Linked DNA regions of Homo sapiens: all the other regions are reported to be linked to region 1. Evidence: microRNA targets listed by miRTarBase, many of them from high-throughput screens and not tested one by one. Region 1 holds a microRNA gene; each other region holds the end of a gene's coding sequence.
Evidence for each region. Region 1 holds the annotated microRNA hsa-miR-7160-5p (UGCUGAGGUCCGGGCUGUGCC, at 1,714-1,734, shown strand). A microRNA usually pairs through its seed, bases 2 to 8, with sites in the 3' UTR of a target mRNA and lowers its output. Matches are read on the target gene's strand: a 7mer-m8 pairs with bases 2 to 8, a 7mer-A1 pairs with bases 2 to 7 and ends in A, and an 8mer does both.

Region 2: miRTarBase lists NRIP3 as a target of hsa-miR-7160-5p. Seed matches in the 3' UTR shown: 7mer-m8 at 1,210-1,216 and 7mer-m8 at 1,077-1,083.
Region 3: miRTarBase lists ACBD7 as a target of hsa-miR-7160-5p. Seed matches in the 3' UTR shown: 7mer-A1 at 3,300-3,306, 7mer-m8 at 2,855-2,861 and 7mer-A1 at 1,851-1,857.
Region 4: miRTarBase lists SRRD as a target of hsa-miR-7160-5p. Seed matches in the 3' UTR shown: 7mer-m8 at 1,156-1,162, 7mer-m8 at 1,640-1,646, 7mer-m8 at 2,117-2,123 and 7mer-m8 at 3,492-3,498.
Region 5: the mRNA of STEEP1 is a reported target of hsa-miR-7160-5p. Seed matches in the 3' UTR shown: 7mer-m8 at 861-867.
Region 6: the mRNA of TMEM216 is a reported target of hsa-miR-7160-5p. Seed matches in the 3' UTR shown: 7mer-A1 at 3,634-3,640.

The regions. Positions count from the first base shown.
Region 1 is chr8:2,074,876-2,078,981 of GRCh38, forward strand. It overlaps MIR7160 (microRNA 7160), which reads left to right and starts at 1,714; the gene lies at 1,714-1,765. MYOM2 (myomesin 2) reads left to right here. Exons shown (of 37, transcript NM_003970.4): 11 at 1,266-1,407; 12 at 3,859-4,058.
Region 2 is chr11:8,980,157-8,984,262 of GRCh38, forward strand. It overlaps NRIP3 (nuclear receptor interacting protein 3), which reads right to left. Exons shown (of 7, transcript NM_020645.3): 5 at 3,916-3,968; 6 at 3,719-3,813; 7 at 420-3,404. The coding sequence ends at 3,389. Among named protein-coding and RNA genes, the nearest start is that of TMEM9B-AS1, 18 kb to the left of the region's middle.
Region 3 is chr10:15,074,917-15,079,022 of GRCh38, forward strand. It overlaps ACBD7 (acyl-CoA binding domain containing 7), which reads right to left. Exons shown (of 4, transcript NM_001039844.3): 2 at 4,007-4,106; 3 at 3,775-3,837; 4 at 559-3,687. The coding sequence ends at 3,614. It overlaps ACBD7-DCLRE1CP1 (ACBD7-DCLRE1CP1 readthrough), which reads right to left. Exons shown (of 8, transcript NR_144471.1): 2 at 4,007-4,106. Among named protein-coding and RNA genes, the nearest start is that of ACBD7, 12 kb to the right of the region's middle.
Region 4 is chr22:26,491,025-26,495,024 of GRCh38, forward strand. It overlaps SRRD (SRR1 domain containing), which reads left to right. Exons shown (of 7, transcript NM_001013694.3): 6 at 1-46; 7 at 439-3,634. The coding sequence ends at 648. TFIP11 (tuftelin interacting protein 11) reads right to left here. Exons shown (of 15, transcript NM_012143.4): 13 at 3,773-3,915; 14 at 3,115-3,280; 15 at 216-1,344. The coding sequence ends at 989. Among named protein-coding and RNA genes, the nearest start is that of SRRD, 9.1 kb to the left of the region's middle. RefSeq lists an enhancer at 2,264-3,463.
Region 5 is chrX:119,536,190-119,540,295 of GRCh38, reverse strand. It overlaps STEEP1 (STING1 ER exit protein 1), which reads left to right. Exons shown (of 7, transcript NM_022101.4): 7 at 507-2,147. The coding sequence ends at 569. Among named protein-coding and RNA genes, the nearest start is that of STEEP1, 27 kb to the left of the region's middle.
Region 6 is chr11:61,397,958-61,402,063 of GRCh38, reverse strand. It overlaps TMEM216 (transmembrane protein 216), which reads right to left. Exons shown (of 5, transcript NM_001173990.3): 4 at 4,089-4,106; 5 at 3,218-3,794. The coding sequence ends at 3,788. Among named protein-coding and RNA genes, the nearest start is that of TMEM216, 7.4 kb to the right of the region's middle.

The DNA.
Region 1 (4,106 bases):
AAGGCGTCAGAGCGCTCCTGCGCCATGTAGCTGCTGCTGCTCTCCGGGTCCCCGGGCTCCCGGCTCCATCCCGATCAGCCGGGCATCCTTACCTGCTGCCCAAGTTCTCACCTTCCCACCTGCCTCCAGCTCCAGTGGGGTGCAGGACGCATCCATACATCTTCATGATTACTTTTTCCATTGCATCCATTAGATCAGAGCTTAAAGGAAGGACTGTATCATTAAAGAATATTTCATCTGAAAAGAAAGAGAAGAAATGTCAACCAAACGTATCTCACCCTCCTCACTTCCCACACGATAGCCTGAGCTTGCGAGTCTGTGAGGTTAGACACTCCCGCCAAGTTTCACTGCTGTTGTTAGGCGGGCGTTAAATGTCCCTTCCGTCTTCTGCATGTGCCTGCTGGTATGATGCTCCGCCCCATAAAAAGGCAATAAATGCAACACGGCTCAAATCGCCTTGCTCACTCAGCACCAGCAACAGGAGGAAAATAAGGCAAAGGTGGGGAGTTTAACCATTTTCATCGCTTTCTGAGGCTTTTGAATGTGAGAGGAAACCATTTGGCTCAATGTCAGGAAATCCTCAGCTTTTAATACCCTGAAGATATGTGAGCAGGAAACTGGATAGTGCTCACCCTGCTAAGCATGCGTCACAGGGCAGCCAGGGCTGCTGAATAAATACATAGTTTAGATAAGAAGGTTCACATTCAGTGTATTAACTTTCTATGTTGCTCTGTTGGTTTTCATGCAGCTGTAATTAAACCTAATTGCATTAGGGTCATCAATAGACTGAGAAACGAATGATGCAATATTGTCCCAAATATTTGCTCAAAGTTGGCGAAAAGAGTAAATCGCCCAATTTCCTAAGGATTTTGAAATAGAAGAGTATCTCAGGTGATATTTCTCAGGTGTTAGAAATGCCAGATTATTGTCACTGTTTCATCCGCACATTTTTGCCAACGTGCCGTTATGCACCATAGCAGGACCAAGAGAAGATGACCTGTAATTCAGGATCTAATGACGAAAAATTGTAGACTCAGTGTTTTATCAAGGATTCTATGTTTTGAAGCTTTTTAATTCATACATAATTTTATATTTCTTGTCACCAACCCGCCAGAGTAAGAAATATTCTAGTACTTTGAACATGAGAATTAAACAGTGGTCAAATCAAGGGGATAGAATTGGAGCTTGGAGGAGCTGTAAACAGGCTTTGCAGTGACCCCAGCCTTTAAATGACAGGCGTGTGCCTTTTCTCTCCCTGCCCCAAGATGCTGACCCGCTGGTCACAGGGGCCCCCGGTGCACCCATGGACTTGCAGTGCCACGACGCCAACCGGGACTACGTCATCGTGACCTGGAAGCCGCCCAACACCACCACTGAGAGCCCCGTCATGGGCTATTTTGTGGACCGGTGAGCGTCTTGCATTCTCCCGGGGATGGGAACGTTCCGCATGGAATCTTACCATGGACAATATATTGAGAAATTTTTCTCAATGCAGGTTGACGTTCCCATTTTTTGATTGGCTCTAGGTACATGGCTAATTGGTTGTATAAGTTCCTATTTAGGTAATTGGTAAATACGGCCAAGTAGGCTGAGCCCAGCATAACCACACTGGGTTTCTTTTTGTTGAAAGTGGAGGCTCGTTTGCCTGTTGCACACCCAGTAACCAATCCCACCAACGTCTTCAGGCTCACTCTGAGCCCCGCGCTGTGGTTCTGCTGAGGTCCGGGCTGTGCCCCGTACCGGACAGGGCCCTGGCTTTAGCAGAATTAAAGCTTGGAACTGTCCTTCCCTCCTGAGAGACAAAGTGCTGCGAAGAATGCCAGCTCATTTCTAACAAAGTTCTTTCCTTTTCTCTACTGAGGAATAAGGTGTTCTTCTTGTTTCCAAGTGAAAAATCTTGAGCTTCGAAATACTGGAGTTTGTGTTTGAGTTGATAACTTACATTTAGGTCATCGTTGGAGCCAGTGGAGTTTGAATTCTTTGACTTCCCGTACTGGGGACAGCGCTTGGAGCCTGGGAAGTGTACTGCACAGAGCCAGTGGGTTTACTGGATATGTAATTTATGCCCTAAATACAAATTCCAGTTCTTGGAGTAAATTATAGTTGAAGAAAATGAATTTAGAAATTAGACAGAGAGTAAAAGAGGATGGTTCTGGCTGGGCACGGTGGCTCACGCCTGTAATCCCAGCACTTTGGGAGGCCAACGCGGGCGGATTACAAGTTCAGGAGATCAAGAGCATGCTGGCCAGCATGGTGAAACCCTGTCTCTACTAAAAATACAAAAATTAGCTGGGTGTGCTGGCATGTGCTTATAATCCCAGCTTCTTGGGAGGCTGAGGCAGGAGCATCTCTTGAACCAGGGAGGCGGTGGTTGCAGTGAGCCAAGATTGCGCCACTGGACTCCAGCCTGGCAACACAGTGAGACTCCACCATCAAAAAAAACAAAACAAAACAAAAAACAAAAAAACAAAACAAAAAAACCACAAAGGATGGTTCCTGGTAGAAATGCAAAATTTTATATGTATATTAAACAGAAAAATAAGGTGATTATCTTAGGAAAAAATGAGGGAATTGGCTTTTGTTTGTTTGTTTGTTTATGCTGATTAAATTCTCTTTTCTCTTCCAACAAAACTACTTGTTTGGCTGAGACCTGTGCCATCAAACTAATATTTTGATATGCTAGAGACAGTTCTGCAGGGAGTGCTGTTCCGGGCTTACCTTGAATTAAGCAACTACAGCAAGAAAAACAAACCCTCAAAACGATCTTCTTTTCTCCTGGGACAGCTGATAAGTTTTCCCGCCATGTTGACAAAAACCATTTCCTGCACTGTCTCAGCTAACAATCCACGCTCCTCCCCTCATTACAAAAAGCGCAAACATGAAATTCAAAGCAACGGAACACTTTGGGAATGAGGGTGCATTTGGAAGTGGGGGGTGCAGCTCCTCCTCTGCCCTTCCTTTGGGCTTACGACTTGCCAGCTGTTGCCTGAAGTTGCAGGTTTTCCCATCAGACTTTTGGTTTTGACCTGTTGTTCTCTTCGGCTAAAACAGCCCATGACATGTGGATCAGACAGCTTTCATTAAAAGTGCTGGATACTTAGGAGGAGAGCTGGTTCTTTCCCAGATGAAGGCACCACTCTGGGGTTGAAGTGCTCCCTCCCAACACTGATTTTCTGAACTAGCTCTTTTCTCCTGGGAATTTCATGTGAAGGTTTTTTTCTTACATTTTTCAACCTGTGAAAAACAGAGGTTAATCTTTCCTATATTTCCAGGTTTCTGGTCAGGAATTAATATTTTCAAAAGACTTCTAAATTCCACATGAGAGGCATTCTAGAAAGAAATGTCCTAACATTATTCTAGGAGACTGTAAGCCAGCTTTCCCAGGGACCTGGGCCCTTGGTCTCACAGAGTGGGACGGGAGCTGGAGGCAGAGGGGGCTGAGCCTGTTTCCCCAGCCTGGGCCTCAGACGGGCCAAGCCGCAGCTTAGGGGTGCCGTGACTATGTCACGTAAGTCGGAACAAGAACTGTTCAGGATGCGTCTAAAATAATTTTTTGAGGAGATTTTTGCCTAAATGTGTTTGATGACAGAAATTGATCTTCAGCTATAAATTATTAAGATTCATGGGCATATATTACATATATAATAGATATTACATATAATATATATATTGCATTTTCTAAATAGCTCTGTCTTCTAATGTTTATCTATACAAGTCAATATCTTAGCAGCAAAGATTTTACTGGCGTGAGATATTGTCCTGTTATAATCAGTGTGTGCATATATGCATATACCTATGTATATTTAGTAGGTTGCCACATTTGCTATTCTCTGTTGTTTTTCTTTTTTTAACTTGAAGATGTGAAGTAGGAACGAATAATTGGGTGCAGTGCAATGATGCACCGGTGAAAATCTGCAAATACCCGGTCACAGGGCTTTTTGAAGGAAGGTCTTACATATTCCGAGTGAGGGCAGTGAACAGTGCGGGCATCAGCCGACCCTCCAGGGTCTCTGATGCGGTGGCTGCACTTGACCCCTTGGACCTCAGAAGGTTACAAGGTAAGCTGCTCACGCCTAAGTATCCACTGTGCCCAGGAAGCTTTGGCT
Region 2 (4,106 bases), not on the chromosome of region 1:
GTAATCCTCCAGCCTCAGCCTTCCAGAGTGCTGGGATTACAGGTGTGAGCCACCGCGTCCAGCTATATTTCCTTTTCTAGAAGTGTTCTCTCGGACTGCTGACAGGTCCACCATAAAAGATTGTTCCCGTATATGAAGTTCTGAGTGACTACCATATGCCAACCACTCTATATGGATTTTCTTATTTGACACTGTGAGGTAAGCACTTTTATTACTTCTGTTTTATAGATTACAAAACCAAGCTCAGTGAGGTTTGCTAATGTGCTCGACATACAGTCAGTAAGAGACACCTGAAGGGCCAGTAGCAATGGAGGAACAGGAGACCCTAAGAGAAAAATGCTGATGCAATTAGACTTTACCTAGTCTCCCCCACCTTCCAGACTGGAGCCCTGACACAAAGACTTTGTCAGACAAGCACACAGAGGGGAAGATTTCACTTTATTGTTACATCAGTCTCACAAATGAACCCAACACAGCCAGAAACACTGAAAGGATAAAGTGCCAATGCAGAGAGGCCTGGCAACAGGAGGAGGGAGGAATCCAGTTCGTCTCCTCCACGTCCCCAGCCTGGCAATATATTTCTATTACACAAGAGTGAGGGCAGCTGACATACCAGGCAACCCATTGTATAGACACTTTGAGCTAAGAAATAGAAAATTGTACCAGGTAGGGTCTGTGCAGGGCAAGAAAATAGAAAGAAGTCAGAAAATGTTATTTTCCCGAGTCAGGCATGGAAATATCAAATGATAAAACCAATATTTTTCAAACTCTGTTATTTGAGATAGACATCTAATAAGGAATGAGACAGGTCTGGTGCTTCATGCTACTGCCTATTTTCAGAACTATGACACCCTTTCTCCCACACCCTCAATGTAAGGTACCAGAATTTTTTAGGACTCCTGGGAAAAACTGACCTCACCTTCTTACCTTCTCAGCCCCCAAAAATTAGACCCAGTGCTCCCTCATGCACATCAAGGAGATATGAGCTAGGAGAATAATCAACTTGGAGGCATTTAAAGAAAGTGAATGAAGGCCGGGTGCGGTGGCTCACGCCTGTAATCCCAGCACTTTGGGAGGCTGAGGTGGGCGGACCACAAGGTCAGGAGATCGAGACCATCCTAGCTAACACGGTGAAACCCGTCTCTACTAAAAATACAAAAAATTAGCCAGGCGTGGTGGCAGGTGCCTGTAGTCCCAGCTACTTGGGAGGCTGAGGCAGGAGAATGGCATGAACCCGGGAGGCGGAGCTTGCAGTGAACCGAGATCGTGCCACTGCACTCCAGCCTGGGCAACAGAGTGAGACTCTGTCTAAAAAAAAAAAAAAAAAAAGAATAAACCAGCAGGAACCTTCAACATGCCTCACTGTGGCTAAGAGTCAAGGCTCAGAGTAGAACTTTCAAGTAGGGAAGTAAAGGGTGAGCTTTACTTCAACTTAGTACCAGGATAAGAGGCAGGCCAAAGTATTGCCATGAAAGGTAGGGAAGGAGCATGGAGAGGCCTCAGTGGAAAGGTACAAATCCCCGCTAGGTAAGAGAATGGGGTGTTGCTAGAGGGAGTGCTGAAGGCTGGTAACCCCGGGATCACCCCTCATGAGCTTTAGATATAGCCTCCCAACCATGGCTGTGCTTAGCTTCCTATCTAGCTTCTTTAGGTAGAGGCTGATAGGAAGGGGGCCTAGGGAATGACCCCATGACAACTGACTGCAGTATGGCTGCCTAGTTGTTCAAATGATAGTCACCAAGTTCCTAGGCTTTAGGGAGCTTCTGTGAGGCCCAAATCATTCAGAGTTCCAAAGGGCTGTTCAGTAGGGGCAGTTGCTGAACACCAGACAAGGTAGTTGGTAGTACTTGGCAAAGTTCAAAGTGGGATCCTTTAAACAAACACTCTGAGAACTACTGCTATGACACAGGGTAGACTTGGGAATATCTTAAAGGGATACCCACAGCTAGCTATTTTTCTGACTTGTCCAAGCACTTCTATGACCAAACTGAAGGGGAGATTCCATTATAGACACCTGTGTGCCTAATGTGACACCCCAGTCAAAAAGCTTCAAGAAACCTTGTATTCTCCCCAACCTTTGACAGGGGTCAGGAAATACTGGGCAGTTATAAAAAGTTGTCCTTAACATTGCCGGCTCCTGCTCTGCCTCTTTCCTTGTATCAGGACAGAACTGAACATCTCAATTCCCTGCCTGAAAATGTCATTCCCTGCCTCCCAGAAAGGTTTATCTAGATAGGCCTCTCCACCAACTGATTCTACTCAGTCTACTCCCTTCTATTCTGGCCTTGCTCTTTTTTTCCCCCCATCTTTCTCTACTCCTGGTTTCCAGCTACTTCAGTCCTTGACAGACACATAATAGGATGGGCAGAAATGCTGATCGGATCTTGGGAGTAATCAACGTCTGACAGTGACACTCTGATTTACTTAAGCCTTCAATTCCATATCAGAGAGGGATTAATATTCCTCTGTCTGTGGTTCCTCCTTTCCTCCAAGAGGTTCACAGTGAGAAACCATTTCATTCATCTTTGTACGCTCGTTTTTAGGCACCAAGATGAGGGCCTAAATGTGACAGTTTGGGGCAAGGAACTTTTACTGGGCTTGGCACACAGGAGGGAGAGCTACCCAAATCATCCTAGCATCCATCTCCAGAGAATATTCCTCCCATGCTCTGCCTTTTTTTTTTTTTTTTTAACACATTCTCACCTCTTTGCCCTCCTGTTAAAGGCTTGAATACAAATGAGGCAGCATGGGAGTCTTGGCTTGGAAATCAGGTCTGCGTTCTTGGTCCCTTCAGTCACTGACCTAATATATGAACTTAGACAATTCACTTGCCTCTCTGGACCTTTAAATGAAAGAGTTAAACTGTAATGGATAATGTCCCTGGGCTCTTTCACATAATCCATACTTGAGAAATCAATGAATCAATTTGAAGAAACTCTAATTCTAAGACATAGGTATCCTGGCACCTGTTTGAAACAGCTGAAAGGAGGTAAAGGTCAGGTTCCTGTTTATTATACATTTAGCTATAGGAAAAGAAGCACATATATCTATGGAGACACAGAACCTGGCAGCCCCTATACTTGACTAATAAAAGCAAATTCCTGGAAGAAGCAGAGAAATAGGCCACAAGTGAGACTGGCAGTGTCAAAAAAGGTCTATAAGTTAAGTGATCAAAGTAGTAAAAAACAATGGCCATAACCAGACAAGATCTCTAAGCATAGACTATAGTCTAGAGAGGTCTGAATGGGAAGGAGCCCCTGGAGCTTCTATTAGATGGAAGGACTTGGTCCACAGCAAGTCACTACGGCATTTGGTTCAAACCCAGTTTTCTCTATCTGTCAACCCGGTGTGTATGCATGCACACGTGCAGACATGCTGCAGGCTGTAGTTATGCTTCTGAAGTGCTGAAATGAGAAATAAATATCAGGAGAAATAATGCCAAATTCAAAAAAAGTTAAGCTGAAGGCAAGTAAAATTTTGCTTTCAAAGCTAGTCATTTCCCTACCACTCTGTGTGGCATCACCATTGCTCATTCTGATGTGTGCACTACAGAGTTTTGTGGGGTGATGAACTCTGGGTGTGGGGAAGGGTGGATTTGTAGTATAATTGAAAGCCAAAGACAGGATACAACCCCATGTCCTGTCTGAGAACCACCACCACCCTGCTCGCAGCTGATGACAAATGGATGTGACTTGATCTGACCCATTTGGGCACTCACTTGTCTTCATTCAAAGAGACTGTCTCCACAAAAGGGATTTCTTCCTTGTCTGTCTTCCCCATGATCAGCCGGTGCTTATCCAAGTTTATGATGCACTGAAAACAGGTAACTTGTCAGTGATACCACTATGAGTTCCTGTGTAAGAGGATACCTGCCTCAGAGAGGAAGTATCAAGGGGTAAGTGGAGTCAATCTTACCTTCAGAGATCGGAGAGTCTGTAGACCAAGGGACAAGTTTTTCTCATTGTCATCTAATAAAAACAAAAAAATGATTAAGATTTAGCCATTTCCATGCTTGCTTAGAAGTTGGCCTAATCACTATTAGGTTCCATCCATCCATCCAATAACATCCAATAAACATATATTGAGCATGTGTTATTTTTTTTTTA
Region 3 (4,106 bases), not on the chromosome of region 1:
GGCGTGGTGGCGGACGCCTGTAATCCCAGCTACTAGGGAAGCTGAGGCAAGAGAATCACTTGAACCCGGGAGGTGGAGGTTGCAGTGAGCCAAGACCATGCCACTGCACTCCAGTCTTGGCGACAGAATGAGACTCTGTCTCAAAAATAATAATAATAATTAGGATTCGTGATTATTAATTTGAAAAATGTTTAGTCAGTATAGTCTGCAAACTGAAGTTTCATGATGGAACAAATGCCAGGCTTTGGGGGTAAGCTTTTTCCCCTGCATCTCTACCTGGTGGAGGTAAAGTCCACATGGGAACAACTTTCAGGAGTTTTCAAGCCCTCAACTGTAAGACACCAAGTCTATCATTGATGATGTCTTCTCTTTGAAGGAATTAGGCCTTGGTATCATCGTGGAAGACGTCTATCATTAGGCGAAATTTAGAAAGATGAGAATTATCTTGATTGCCAAAATTTTCCCGATGAGAAATCAACCTCGATTTTTAAAAGTAAACTTTTTGAGGTAACTGCAGATTCCCTTTTATTTGTAAGAAATAATACAGAGAGATTTGTGTAGCCTTTTACCCAATTTCCTTTAATGGTAACTGTTATGCAAAACTATAGTATAATATCACAATCAGCATATTGGTGTTGCTACAATCAAGACAGAACATTCCATCACTGCAGGATCATCCCTCCTGCTGCCCTTTTAAAGCCACACCCACCTCCCTCCTCCCTGGCAACCACTATTCCATCCTTTGCGTCTATAAATGTTCCCTTTCAAGAATCCTGGCTGGACGCGGTGGCTCATGCCTATAGTCTCAGCACTTTGGGGGGCCAAGGTGGGTAGATCACCTCAGATCAGGAGTTCCAGACCAGCCTGGGCAACATGGTGAAACCCTGTCTCTATGAAAAATACAAAAATTAGCTGGGCATGGTTGCACGCACCTGTAGTCCCAGCTACTCTGGAGGCTGAGATGGGAGGATTGCTTGACCCTGGGAGGCAGAGGTTGCAGTGAGCCGAGAGCGTGCCACTGCGCTCCAGCCTGGGTAACAGAGTGACAGCCTGTCTCAACAAAAAAAAAAAAAAAAAAAAAGAAAAGAAAAAGAATGTTATATAAATGGAATTATACATGTCACATTTGGGGACTGGCTTTTTCTGCTCAGCATAATTCCCTGGAAATTCATCTAGCAGACCTAGATAGTTTTGTTGTTGTAGTAACATGAAGTGGATCTATTCCTCTGGTCATACCATTCCAAATCTAAATTTTTATGCAGGGAATAGAGGTACACTGTTTTGGGGGATATTTATCTTAAGGGATCTCAAACAATTTTTTGAATTGTTAACATGAGACTGTCTTCTTTCAAAGAGCCTGTGTACCATCCAGAAAGACTGAGTAGGGGGCCAATATTATATTCCAGACTCTATTTTTACTCAGATAGAACTGAACATATGGGGTACAGTAGTGGTACAGTTTATCACTAGATACATTTTAGTTTGCCTTTTTGTCTTAAATGTCTTAAATGTAAAAATTTAAAGAAAAATAGATATTCCTATGGGGGCTTTTTAAATTTCTTTAAACTGCTATGGACAGACTTGTAATTTTTTTTTTTTTTTTTGAGACGGAGTCTTGTTTTGTCGCCCAGGCTGGAGTGCAGTGGTGTGATCTTGGCTCACTGCAACCTCCATCTCCTGGGTAAAAGCAATTCTCCTGCCTCAGCCTCCCAAGTAGCTGGAATTACAGGTGTGCACCACCAATGGCTGGCTAATTTTTGTATTTTTAGTAGAGATGGGGTTTTGCAATGTTGGTCAGGCTGGTCTCGAACTTCTGACCTCAGTAATCCACCTACCTCGGCCTCCCAAAGTGCTGAGATTAGAGGCGTGAGCCACCACGCTCAGCCTTGCCATTGATTCTTAATAACCTGTTTTTATTTCACCAGTAACATTAACTTATTGTAACAGAACAGATGAGCCAAAAGAACAAACAGCTGTTCAAATCTGTACACATATTACCAGGGCTAGACTTTCTAAAAAGTCAAAAAACAACAGATGTGGAGAAAAGGGAATGCTTATACACTATTGGTGGGAATGTAAATTAGTACAACCTCTATGAAAAACAGCACGGAAATTTCTCATGGAACTAAAAATAGAACTACCATTCTACCCAGCAATCCCACTACTGGGTATCTTCTTAAAGGAAAATAAATCATTCTATCCAAAAGATACCTGCACTTGTATATCTATTGCAGCACAATTCACAAGAGCAAAGATATGGAATCAACCTAAGTATCCATCAGCAGATGATGGGATAAAGAAAACGTTGTATATGTATACCAGGGGATATTACTCAGCCATATAAAGAGAATGAAATTACGGCTTTTGCAGCAACGTGGGTGGAACTGGAGGCTATTATCTTAAGTGAAACAACTCAGAAAAAAATAAGAAAATAAAGATTTTTAAAGAACCCTCAGAAACAAAAAAAAATACCACATGTTTTCACTTATAAGTGGGAGTTAAACAGGGTGTATACAGGGTCATGGAGTGTGGAATAATAGACACTGGAGGCTTGGAAAGGTGGGAGGGGGTGAGGGATGAGCAATTACCTTTTGGGTACAATGTACAGTATTTTGGTGATGGTTACACTAAAAGCCCAGATTTCCCCACTACACAATATATCCATGTAACAAAACTGCACCTGTGACCAGGTGTGGTGGCTCACACCTGCAACCCCAGCGCCAAGGTGGGCAGATCACCTGAGGTCAGGAGTTCGAGACCAGCCTGGCCAACATGGCAAAACCCCGTCTCTACTAAAAATACAAAAATTAGCCAGCCATGGTGGCAAGCACCTGTAATCCCAGCTACTCGGGAGGCTGAGGCAAGAGAATCACTTGAACCCAGGAGGCGGAGGTTGCAGTGAACCGAGATCACACGACTGCACTCCAGCCTGGGTGACAGAGTGAGACTCCTCAAGAAAAAACAAACAAACAAACAAAAACTGCAACTGTACTCCCTAACTCTATAAAAATAAAAAATACTTTTCTAAAAGAATTTTTTTTTTTATACTTTAAGTTCTGGGATACATATGCAGAACGTGCAGTTTTGTTACATAGGTATACATGTGCCATGGTGGTTTGCTGTACCCATCAACCGGTCACCTACATCAGGTATGTCTCCTAATGTTATCCCTCCCCTAACCCCCTAGTCCCCGACAGGCCCCAGTGTGTGATGTTCCCTTCCCTGTGTCCATGTGTTCTCATTGTTCAACTCCCACTTATGAGTGAGAACATGCTTGGTTTTCTGATCTTGTGATAGTTTGCTGAGAATGATGGTTTCCAGCTTCATCCATGTCCCTGCAAAGGACATGAACTCATCCCTTTTTATGGCTCCATAGTATTCCATGGTGTATATGTGCCACATTTTCTTAAAAAGAACTTTTAAAGACACCTGGTTTAAGCAAGTACAATTGAGTTAACTATGTAGTTTCAGTATACTTCTAAGTACTACAGCTCATGCTAATAGCAAAAATATACATGATACATCAAGTTAACAGTATGCCTCTCCCTCTAAATGTTAGGTCATGATAGCATTTGGAAGTCTTCAAAAGGAAAAATTCCTCATATGCTGTATTCTAAATTCCGTATTTTTCTATCAGCTCCTTTGCTTTAGAAATATAGGCACTCGTCGCATCTTCCGTCGACAACCCTAGAAAGATACAAACAGGTTATCTCCCTGATTGGTGCACTGGGAAATTAAGAAAGTTTGCTTTAAACTTGTGAAAGACTAAAAAACCTTTTTTGAGGTTCCATGCTTCCCATTTGGCTTTGCCTTTTAAATCTAGCATTCCTGGACACGCTGGCAAAAGAAGGAGACATGCATTTGCAGGTTAACATTTTACTGTGCACTTCTATAGACATTGTTCAAACGGAGTATATTACTATATTTTAAGTAATTATATATTATAATCGCAATTAATATATTAATTGTAACATATGAATATATTAATATTAATAATATATAATACCAATATTAATGTCTCCAACTATTGCTTGTTTGTAAAGCCCATAGAGTTCTTTCAGTTCTCCATCATCTGGTCTTGCTTTCAGCTTCCTCACATCTTCTGC
Region 4 (4,000 bases), not on the chromosome of region 1:
GTTGTTGGCAAGGATTCTGCAGAAAAATTATCCCTACATTGCAAAGGTATCTATCTGAATAAAGGGGCTGGGATGGAAAAGGGTGTGAAACTGTGAAGAATTCTATCTTTCTTTACAGGCGTAGGAGGAAACTCATGGGCTAAGTGGCGCTAGTGTACTGTCAGCTCTCTCCATGGGTCTGTGTTCCAGAAAGCTATGACTCTTTAATGCATCTCTTAGTTTTTTCCTTATTTCCTTTATTCTTAGTATCACAGTCCATGATATCCACTGTCCTTGGGGCGCCCAATTCATTGTGCAAAAGCATTTAAATCAAAATACCCTATTTGTTATTTTTTTAAAAAGTAAAGTGGGGATGACAAGTAAAGTGGAAATTTATCCCAGAAGAGTGGGGATTACTGTGACTATCTGAAGTTTTTATACTTGAATTTTTCTGCTCAGATTTTAAAAGGACTGGAGGAGCTTGAGTTTCCTCAGACTTCACAATACATGGACATATTTAATGATACCTCTGTCCACTGGTTCCCTGTGCAAAAGCTAGAACAGCTCTCCATAGATATTTGGGAGTTTCGGGAAGAACCAGATTATCAGGACTGTGAGGACCTTGAAATCATCAGGAACAAGAGAGAAGATCCTTCTGCTACTGACTGAACTCGTTGTGAGGTACTCAGTGTTGGCTGAGGTAGAAGCTGCCACCAGAGACTAAAGGGAAGGCTGCTATGGAGGAACTACAGAGAACTCCTTTGCCAGGAAAGAACATCAACTTGGCTGTCCTGTTTTGAGGACGATACCCCACATGAGGACTTGGTATAAAGATTCCTGCCCTACGTGGCATTGTCCCATTTTACATCCTTCCCTCATGACCTGGCCTGATGTGGAGTAGCTCCTGAGTAAAGAAGTTACCCTTTTGAAGGTGATCTAAAAATACTGTTTATTTACAGTACATCCCTCTTAGGGGCAAGTCTCTGACTGGTTCTGGACCTGCCACAGTTCACTTGGCCATGTCGATCAGGCTCTGCAGTGAGGTGGGCACCCACGTCTTCTCGCCCTGGACAAAGACCACTCCCCGGTCGATGTAGATCACAATGCGGCCAAAGGTGTAGAGCTGCTTCCCTTCGTGTCGCTTCCCAATGACGGGCATGAAGACAATGTTGTGCTCCTCAGCCTTGGTCTCAATGAGGTCCTTAAAGTTCATGGGCACAGAGCTAGCGGCCACGCCAATGCCCCTCTGAGCCATGTTCTCAGCCTCCCGCCTCTCCTGCATGGCCTCGTACTGGAAGTCCTTCCTCCGCTCCGTGTGGGTGAGATAGGCAATGTTCTCCCGTGCTCCTGGCTGCATGTAGGCACCTAAGATACAGGAGGACAGGGCGGTGAGGAGAGGTGTTTCCAGGTGTATGGAAGTTGACACTGTGGCTTGGCCCAGGTCTTGGGTGTGCCAGAGTGCTTGTGACTCACTGAAGGGCAGCTCTGCCTCAAAGATACAACTTTGGAGGAAGTTTAGACGACTGGCCAGTATCACATAAAAACTGTTCAGAAGGTTCCTGGCTAGTATCTAGTAACCAGATTATTAATATTCAACATTTTAAAATGAAGTATCTGCAAGGGATTTCTTCCTTCAGAGCTGGAAACATTAACAGAGAGTCCTCAGCCACTCTTCTGTTCCCACCTTGCTCTGTAGAGTTTCCATTTCCCACCACCAAAGAGGCAGCTTTTAGTACCTTGAAAACATAGGGCCCATACTGGCTTTATTTTTAACCTACCCACACAGGGCCCCCATCCTGAAAGAAGTTCACATATATTTAGGGAGCTGAAATGAGTGTTTAAAGGATAATACCAAGACCATAAATGCTAAGTGCTAATTGAGGGGTATATTCAGGGAACAGTTTTGGAAACATGAGGCCAAGGGTAGCTAAGGAAGAGTTTTTAGAAAAAACTTGATAATTACAGAAGCAGAGAAGTATATTTGCCTTATTACTTAATCTCTGTTTTCACAGAATAGGCTATTTTTCTTTTTTTTTTTTTGAGACCGAGTCTCGCTCTTGTCACCTAGGCTGGAGTGCAGTGCTTGCAATCTCGGCTCACTACAACCTCTGCCTCCCAGGTTTAAGCGATTCTTCTGCCTCAGCCTCCTAAGTAGCTGGCATTACAGGCATGTGCCACCGCGCCCGGCTAATTTTTGCATTTTTAGTAGAGACGGGGTTTCACCATGTTGGTCAGGCTGGTCTCGAACTCCTGACCTCGTGATCTACCCGCCTCGGCCTCCCAAAGTGCTAGGATTACAGGCGTGAGCCACCGTGCCTGGCCTAGGCTATTAAATAACAAGAATTAAAGACTCAGGAAATAGAAATTCCAGTTCTAACTGCCACCCTTTAACTATGTGACCTTGAACAGGCTCTCAGCCTCGCTGGGCTTATCTGTAAAACACAGACTAGACGATCCCATTTCAATGCTGCGAATCGGCTAATGAGCAACACTGGAGCACAGGACTGGTTGAAATAGGCTCCCAAATGTAGAAACATAAATATACTCTCACTTACTTATGATCTAGGCAGAATGACTTACCTAGAACTTGGGAACAGATATAGTACACGAACAGTGAACTGCCTGTTTTTGACAACACAGACACCACCTATTGAAGGCTATACACAAGCATGAACTCACTCTCCCTTTTAGCCTATAAAGTAGATCTTACTGTTTAACAGGTAAAATGGGGCTGATTAAGGCTGAGCAATCACCAAGTGTCAGACCGCGTGCCAAACTCCACACTGTAAGATGCGTCACCTAAGCAGCATGCTCAGGCATGAATGAGCCTTAAAAGGCCACACAGCACAGTGGTTAAGAGGGCGGGGCCTGGGGTTAGACTGACATCATCTGAATCCAGCTTAAGTCAGTCTCCACTCAGGGAAGATGCCCCTCTCAGTCATGGTAGACCTGGGCAGTGGGTGCCAGCTGACCATGTACCCCAGTCAGCAGGGTGAGAGTCTGTTGCTATGTGCAAAAGTGTGACCTAAGGTTTAGGCTGCCTACAGGAACCAGAAAACTCTGATTCTGTGTCATTTACATGTGTAAAATCTGAAACTTGGGGCCAGGACATCCAAAATGGGAATCCTCACTTACCAACGTTGGAGGACACCGCCCGGTTCATGATATCAAGTGCCTCATTAAATTTGTCCTTGACAGATGGATGTGCCAGCACTTGGTCTGAGAACATCGACTTCCAACCCAGGTACCACTTGGTGATCTCCTCATAATTTGGGCTGTTACTGAGCCAAGAGCACAGCACCTGCCAAAAAGAAAAATTACTTGCATCCATCGTGGCAACAAATGAAGGCAAGATTTCTGAAGTGGCCATTTGTTTTGTTTTGATCCTGGTCCTACAGGCTAGTGACACTACTTTACAGGGATTTATAGTAGCTAAACAGTCTAGCACTTATGAATATGGATTTTGGAGTCAGCCTGGTAGCTAAAGTGCCCTTGCATGTAAACTCTCTGAGCCTCAGCTTCCATGTCTACACAACAGGGATACCATATCCCCTACCCCATAGGGTTGCTGAGAGGAGCTGAGATAAAGCAAATAAAGTGCTTGGAACAGCTTCTGATACATGGCAAATGTCCAATAAATGGTGCCCACTATGAAGATGACCTAACTCATTCCTACCCTACCATGTAATTTATTTTCATTATGGAATTGTACCTACAGTCAGGCCTTGGCAGAAAATTAACTTAATCCCCACCCAGTTCCCTCCCCCAGAAATCCAAGCAAAACAAAGTGTACCTGAAGCCACTTGGGGAAGAAGTGCTTTTCAAGAAGTCCCACCAGGCTAGAGACAGAGATCATCCCTTCCCAGTCAATCACCCAATAGAATGCATCCATGTGCTGCTGGTGGGGGTTAATGACTAGCTCACCAAGACACATCCCTGGAAGAGAAACCCGGTCTGTAAGGCACAGCTTTAGTACTGGCAAAGCCAAAGAAGCACAAAGAGCAAAGACAATGTCCGTTTT
Region 5 (4,106 bases), not on the chromosome of region 1:
AAAATGAATTGTCTCAATTTTTATCAGATTTTAAAAATTACTATTGTGTCAAATTGCTATAAAAGCTTCTAAATGCTTACTATCCATTTTTGTACATATTTTGTGTGGACCAATAACAAATAGTTCATAGACCATATAACTTTAAGTAGCACTGTTGTAGAATGATGTTCTTCCTGTTCTGCCAAGAATAGCATACTGGTATGCCACAGTATTGGTTCCCTCAGCCTGTGGGGGGCGCTGGGGCTGCTGGAATCCCTGCGCTGATTTCCTGTGGCCACAGCCTTGTCTTTTTGCCCATTTTGCCTACAAATAGCATTTTTTGTGTATGTGCTATAACATCAGAAAGGTTGGAAAGTAGATGTTAGAGGTATATAATGATTTGGGAACCATGATTCTAGTTTGTACACTAAATGAACATTAAGGGAGAGTGTTTGGGTTGGTTAGAATAAGGAAGGAAAATAATTTCATGTCATGTATCAAGACATATGCTTTTTTTTTCTTTCTAGGCTGAATTGGAAGCCAAGAAAGCGAAAATGAAGGGGACCTTGATTGACAACCAGTTCAAATAACCAGGCCTTTTTCTAAGCCCTAGACTAGAGGCAAGCATTTAGATCAGGAGGCAAAGTAATTTCTTGATTACATAGACGGATTCCTATTTATGCCCTAGCAGAAGGCTTTACGTTGTTTCCCATTGATTCTCCTACATTCAGTGAGGTCTTTAACTGAGTCCATTTAACTTGCTTTCTTTTTTTTTTTTTTTTTTTTGAGATAAAGTCTTGCTCTTTCGCCCAGGATGGAGTGCAGTGGTGCGATCTCGGCTCACTGCAACCTCCGCCTCCCGGGTTCAAGCAGTTCTCCTGCCTCAGCCTCCTGAGTAGCTGGGATTACAGGCATGTGCCACCACGCCTGGCTAATTTTTGTATTTTTAGTAGAGACGGGTTCCACCATGTTGGCCAGGCTGGTCTCCAACTCCTGACCTCAAATGATCCACCCACCTAGGCCTCCCAAAGTGCTGGGATTACAGGAGTGAGCCACCGTGCCCAGCCTTGCCCTGCTTTCTAGGAGATGGAGTTTTCTGAATTTTTCTGTATTTAGGTTTTCTGTACTATTTTTTGTCCACTTGATGCAAACTTCTTCAGCTGTGTAGAAACTTTATGAATAGATGAGTGCTTGAGTGTCTCCAGTCTCTAAAGTGGCTGCTTTTATTCTTTCTTCAAAGTTAATAACATGTTGCAAGATTTTTGGACAAAATATTATGGTGTGTCATAGGAAAAGCACCATGAATTATATTTAGGTATAGCAAGTCAGATCCTTTGAAGTGACTCTGTCTCTGTTCTTAGAAGGGTTCTTGGAATTGGCTGTGGTTTGAATCTTTCTACTGTCAGAGGAGACCCATTAAAAGCCAGAATCTGCATAAAGCTTTCTTTACTTCAAACACTGAAGCTGTAGGCGAGCCATCCCGTATCGACTTTATACTCAAAGAAGGAAAAGCCAGATTGCAGTGAGTGGGTAGGACAGCTCAGATCCAAATGAAAGTAGGGTCTCAAGTAACCCAAGGGTGGCCGGGTACGGTGGCTCACGCCTGTAATCCTAGCAGTTTGGGAGGCAGAGGCGGGCAGATTGCCTGAGCTCAGGAGTTTGAGACCAGCCTGGGCAACATGGTGAAACCCTGTCTCTACTAAAATACAAAAGAAATTAGCCAGGTGTGGCGGCATACCCCTGTAGTCACGGCTACTTGGGAGGCAGAGGCAGGAGAATTGCTTGAACTCGGGAGGTGGAGGTTGCAGTGAGCTGAGATTGCACCACTGTACTCCAGCACTCCAGCCTGGGCGACAGAGTGAGACTCTGTCTCTACAAAAAAAAAAAAAAAAAAAAGTAACCCAAGGGAGGGAGCTACCCTCTAGTCGGGCAGCTGATACTGCTTCCTTGCATGGATACATGGGAGGGAGACGTTATAGATTAAGAAATGATAGCAAGATAAACAAAATGATTTGTTGGGTATCTTTTACTTTACATTTGTTATTTGCAGAGGAGTGTTGTATATATAGATGTTATTTTATGTCACACTGCTTCAATGATACCTATATCCATGTGTTTGTATCCATGTTTTTATCCATTCAACTGTATTAAAAGGTGTTGGGACAGGAGTTGTGTTAACCTTCTTGTATTATCTACAAAAAGTTGCACTTAGTAGGTGCCCAAGGCAGGTTCGTGAGGTGCTACCGGGAGATGATAGTAGGATAGTAGGGCAGGTTTTTTTTTGTTTGTATGTTTTTGTTTTTGTTTGGTTTGTTTGTTTGTTTTGCTTTTTTTCTGATCTCCTTATTTGCAAGGCAAAGTAGGTTAGATGTGAGCTAGCAAGAACTGGGAAAAAGAGGGGTGGGGGTCCCAGGAAGGCCCAGGATGGGGCTGTGTTACCTTCTTCCCAGTTATTTTCCTGTATCCAGTGAAGTCTTCGCAACCAATTCTTCCTCTCTACCTTGTTTCCCGTCCTCATTCTGAGAGATAATTAACCGTCATGTGGATGAGAAACCATAACCTTACAGTTCCTTAACCTCAACTCCAGACAGTGACCTTTACCTTTCCTGCACTTTAGCCACAAACTCCCATACCACAGCCTGGATGTCATCCACTCCACCTCTGAAATCCAGTACTCTGCTCTCTGACCACAACCTATCCTTGCTACTCTCATGTGCTCACTTCCTCTAAACCTATTTTATTTTGTTTTTAGATTTGAAGGGTGATTATTTTATTAACAGTAATAATGAAAAAATAGTAGTAAGAATAGCAACAATAATACTAGCTACCTTTTATTGAGCACTTACTATGTGTTGGATGCCATGGAAAGCACTTTACAGGTATTATCTTAATCTAAACAACACGACATCCTACGGGACAGGATTAACTGTTACCATCCTTGTTTTAGAAATGAGTACTCCGAGGCTCAGAGAGTTTTAAGTTTCTCAAGATCCTATAGCCCAGTAAGCAATAAAGCCAAAAATCTGACTCTAAAACCTGAGCTCTTAACTATGCTGAACTCCCTCTATGAACTTAAAACATATATGTTATTCAGAACAGATTATAATTTCATTTTGAAAAATAAAGTGCAAAGTCAAGACAGTTGCATAGAGGACCCCCTGTAGCAAGTGTATGGTTACCTTTCTACATATTTTCTGAAATACTTGTCTTTAGATACTAATCCTAAACCATTTCAACATCTGGTTGAAATTACACATGTTGCTTCATCTATAAGACTGTAAAACGTCATTAGCACCAAGCAAGCATATGCTTTTCATTATGTTTTACTCTTTTTTTTTTTTTTTTTTTTAGAGATGGAGTCTCGCTCTGTCGCCCAGACTGGAGTGCAGTGGCACGATCTCGGCTCACTGCAAGCTCCGCCTCCCGGGTTTACGCCATTCTCCTGCCTCAGCCTCCCGAGTAGCTGGGACTGCAGGCACCTGCCACCATGCCCGGCTAATTTTTGTATTTTTTTTTTTAGTAGAGACGGGGTTTCACTGTGTTAGCCAGGATGGTCTCCATCTCCTGACCTTGTGATCCACCTGCCTCAGCCTCCCAAAGTGCTGGGATTACAGGTGTGAGCCACCACACCTCATATTTAAATAGTTATTAAAATAACATGATATGTTAGTATTTAGTTTCTCTATTTTCTTTATTAACTTGTATTTTAACAGGAAATACAGCGTTTTGCTGTTGGTATGAAGAGCCATGTTGACATTTTGGAGAGTCTTATCATATTTTTGTTTTTGTTTTTGCAAATTATCAAGTATGACAAAACATTAAAATGTTGCAAAATGTTCTCTATTAATTAGTGACATTTGGAAATGTCACTTTATTTTTTAAGATAAATTGAAAAGATTTTTAAAAAACTAGGTTGCCTGAGCCATTTTAGGTTCCATGTCACTCTGCCCATGTCTCCTTGGTCTCTAATTTGCAACAGTTTCTTCATGGTATCTTGTAATTTTAATTTGCATTTCCCTAATGGCAGATGGTGTGGAACATACTGTTTTCCTTTTTTTTTTTTTTTAAACTGTGGTAAAAAACACATAAAGTTTACCATCTTAACCTTTCTTTTTTTTCTTTTTCTT
Region 6 (4,106 bases), not on the chromosome of region 1:
AAAAGCCAGGTGAAGGAGGGTTCAATGATTTAAAAAAAAAGTGAACCACAGACCAGATGATAATGTGTATGGTACCAGGAATGGCAAGATCACTGTAAAAACAAGCTTTAGGAGAAGAGATTCCGTAGAGGGTCTATCAAGATGTGAAACTTAAGGAAAAAAAATAGTTGGAATACCTTAGAATGTAAAACTATTACTTTCAAATTGGGTTCCATGGTAACCCACATCTTAGTTGTACGTCATGCTTGCTAAGACACCTGTTCCTGTGCTGTAGCAATCTCTACATAAGGTCTAGGTGTCTGGTTTTTATGCCCCAGATGACTTGTAAACTAAATTGTGAGGACTAGTAGCTTAGAGGCAAAATTCAGCTTCATCTAGGAGGTACCATGGTGGTGTAGAAAAGGAAGGATTTTATGGTTACTCTAGGTTCAAATCCCAGTTCCATTTCTAAGCTGAATGCCCTTGGACACATGACTTAACATCTGATTAATTTCCTTCTGCCTCATAGGATCATTATATGAATGAAATACACTTTGCCAGGCACTGGATGATTAGTAGTCTCCACAAGCTGCTGCCATGGTATGGAGCTAGAATCAATCTGCCCTAAATGCTTCCTAAACTGGGCGAGACCACTGCAGTCACTTGCTGGTTCTAGCCATGAGTGTGAGTAGCTGAGCAGGCCTCTGCCAAGCTTATGACCAGGGCCTGTTGCTTTGCTCAGTTCTCTCCACTGTCCCAGAATTTTGGTACCTCCAGCTCTGTGTGGACTGTAAAGCAGCTTCCCTTGACTCTAGTGAGCACAGCCTCTGGCCACGATAAATCTGAAAGACTAGCTACACTGATTTCTGTGATCCCAAAATGTTGGGATCACAAGTGTAAGCCACTGTGCCAGGCCTCCACTGCCTCAGTTTCTGTTGTATGTCCTAATTATGTGACTAACTGCATCTACACAGGTGGTTCCAACAAGCATCAGGAAAAATGAACATTTATCACGCAACCCACAGGAAGCACAATGCACTAAACTTCCACATAACCACCCAGTAAATGAGAGGACTTCCTATTCCTAATCACAGCCTCATTTTCAACCATCATCCTCATTCTCAAGTATGAGGAAATGGAATTTCCTTGATCCAGACAGACTCCTAAGGCAAGATTTCTAGTTCCACCTGTTAATAACCAGATGTGTGGTGCTGGTTATGTCACTTCTCATCTCTAAGCCTGCAAAGTCGGGGGTAAGACTTGGTTCATCTCTAAAATAGGTCTTTAAATTCTAATGGATTTTATAAGGCACCCTTCAACTTCCAATTGAGCCTTCCAATCATTTATATTGCTGTGGCAGTGAGCTTAACCAGTGAACCTCTAAATAGGCCATACAGAATGGGCTCTCTTCCAGTTTGATACCAGCGATTTCTTCAACACAGGGAGAAAGTAGCAGAAAATTGGTATTAGTGGGATTTGTAATTATCAGGGCAGTTCCTATTGAAGGTTTTGTTACTGTGTCATGGCTGATTAGACCTGTCTACTCTGGTTTTTGGATAGTCCCCAAGGGCAACTGGGAGGCAAGGGCACAGAAGGGGTAGGAAACAAGAAAAAACATCAGTGCTTTGGACAGCAGAGCCCCTCAGGATAAGAATGAGCTTGATCATAGAAAGTAAGAGTTAAAGCCAGCATAGAATGCTTAAAGTTACATTTTACTTCGAGTAAGAGCAGATAATCTAGGATTCATCTGAAAACAGAAGAGCCTCAAGGTTTTCTGAAGTGGATTCCGTCATGGCTCCTCGTGGCTTCTTGGAATTAAAAAACATGGCCACTACCAAGGAAATGAGGAATAATTTTAAAGATGCTTACTTGGAGAAAGAAAGTATACATTGATCTAGAGTGACAGTTCTCCAGCTTAAAAAAAAAAAAAAGTGTTCCTTTTATGTTGACTCAAAATTTTATTTTTGAGACAGGGTCTCACTCCTGCACAGGCTGGAGTACAGTGGTACAAACATAGCTCACTACAGTCTTGACCTCCTGGGCTCAAGCTATCCTCCTGCCACAGCCTCCTGAATAGCTGGGACTACAGGTGCGCATCACCACACCTGGCTTGTTTTTAAATTTTTTGTAGAGACAAGGTTCTCACCATATTACCCAGGCTGGTCACAAATTCCTGGAATCATGCAATCCTCCTGCTTCAGCCTCCCAAAATGTTGGGATCACAAGTGTAAGCCACTGTGCCAGGCCTCAAAATACTAAAATAAATGACCAAAAAAAAAAAAAAAAAAACATCAGCTGGTTGCAGTGGCTCACACCTATAATCCGAGCACATTAGGAGGTAGAGGCGGGAGGATCGCTTGAGCCCAGGAGTTACAGACCAGCCTGAGCAACAAAGACCCCATCTCTACAATAAATACAAAAATTAGTGGGCTGGGCACGGTGGCTCATGCCTGTAATCCCAGCACTTTGGTAGGCCAGCAGGCAGACCACGAGGTCAGGAGTTTGAGACCAGCCTGGCCAGCATGGTGAAACCCCGTCTCTACTAAAAATACAAAAAAAAATTAGCCCGGCATGGTGGTGCACACCTGTATTCCCAGCTACTCGGGAGGCTGAGGCAGAAGAATCACTTGAACCCAGGAGGCGGAGGTTGCAGTGAGCCGAGATCATGCCACTGTACTCCAGTCTAGGTGACAGAGCGAGACTCCGTCTCAAAAAAAAAAAAAAAAAGCCAGGCATGGTGGTGTGTGCCTGTAGTCCCAGCTACTTGAGAGGCTGATGTGGGAGGATCACGTGAGCTAGGGAGGCAGAGGTTGCAGTGAGCCAAGATCATGCCACTGCACTGCAGCCTGGATGACAGACTGAGACACTGTCTCCAAAATTAAAAAAAAAAAAAAAGTTAGTTTAGAATATGCTTCTTCCAGTTTCACATGGCCCACTGGAAAAAAGCTAACAATTATCTGTAAGAGGAGTGAGACAAGATGCTGACTTTGGGGCAGAGTGAAGCAAATAAGCAGTCTTTTGCATGACGAGAGACTTGAAGATACAGAGGATGGCAGTGCATTTAGGGTTTAATTTAGGCTGCAGCTTGGGGAAGAAAATCAGTGGTCATCACTGCCTTTTGTCCACACTGTATCACTAAGCAAAGCTCCTGAGAACAAACTGCTGGGATAGTCATGACCCTCTCTTGGAGTGGATGAATTCTAGGGACAGGTGCCATAAGGAAAGGCTGCAACCCCCACAACAGAAAATACATATTTATTATAAAATAAAGTTAGTTTCATGAAGAGAGTAGAAAAATAACACTATGAGCTACTAAAAAAGTTGTGGAACTCAGTCTCCGAGGATTGGGGTGAGAGGCTTTCACATCACTCTGGAAACCCACCAACATGAGGCTCTCCGTGCTCATGTGGGACAGGTATAGCACAGCTCGTACAGGGAGCATGTGGCTCAGGTCCTGCTTGAAGCCCAAGGAGCCTAGATGGTCCACACGAGATGCTCTGGCCACGGTGATCAAGGAGGAGAACTTGAGGTCAGCAGGGGACTGGTTCTGAGAAGGGGCAGGATGGGAATAACCTTGCCCCTCCCTATACTGGAGTGTAGAAGAGTCTCTTGGGCTGATGGTCCTGGTTTAGAAGATGGTACCCACTGGCCTTATGCTGAGTTGCTTGCCCAAATGTCTGTGCTGAAGAAAAGCCACACAGCCTTTCTCAGGACAACTTGCCCCACCAATTCTCACTGGTGTGGCTAAAGTACCAGAAGCAATATGTGTGGTGTCAGCCTGATGGGCTGCTGGCTGAAATTCTGTACTTCAAATCCTGTCCATACGATGGCAGAAAGAAAGAAAATGTTAAAAGACCAGTGAATGAGAGCAGCTGGCCTCGACTGTTCTATATTCCAAGCCTCCTGGCCCCAAAGGATAGGGAGAGTATCTTCCCTGAGTGGGAAACGATCTACCTACCCTAAACAGGAAAGGCAATCCCATAGCCACCCCTTCCTCCCTCTAGAAAAAAGTCTTCTAGACCCCTTAGGCTTCAGAAGAATACTGAATCCCTCCCTGGGATGGGAACCCAACCCTCTAGTGATGAGAAATGGTCCCTCAGCAGCAGTACCTGGAGAAAGCAGCCAAG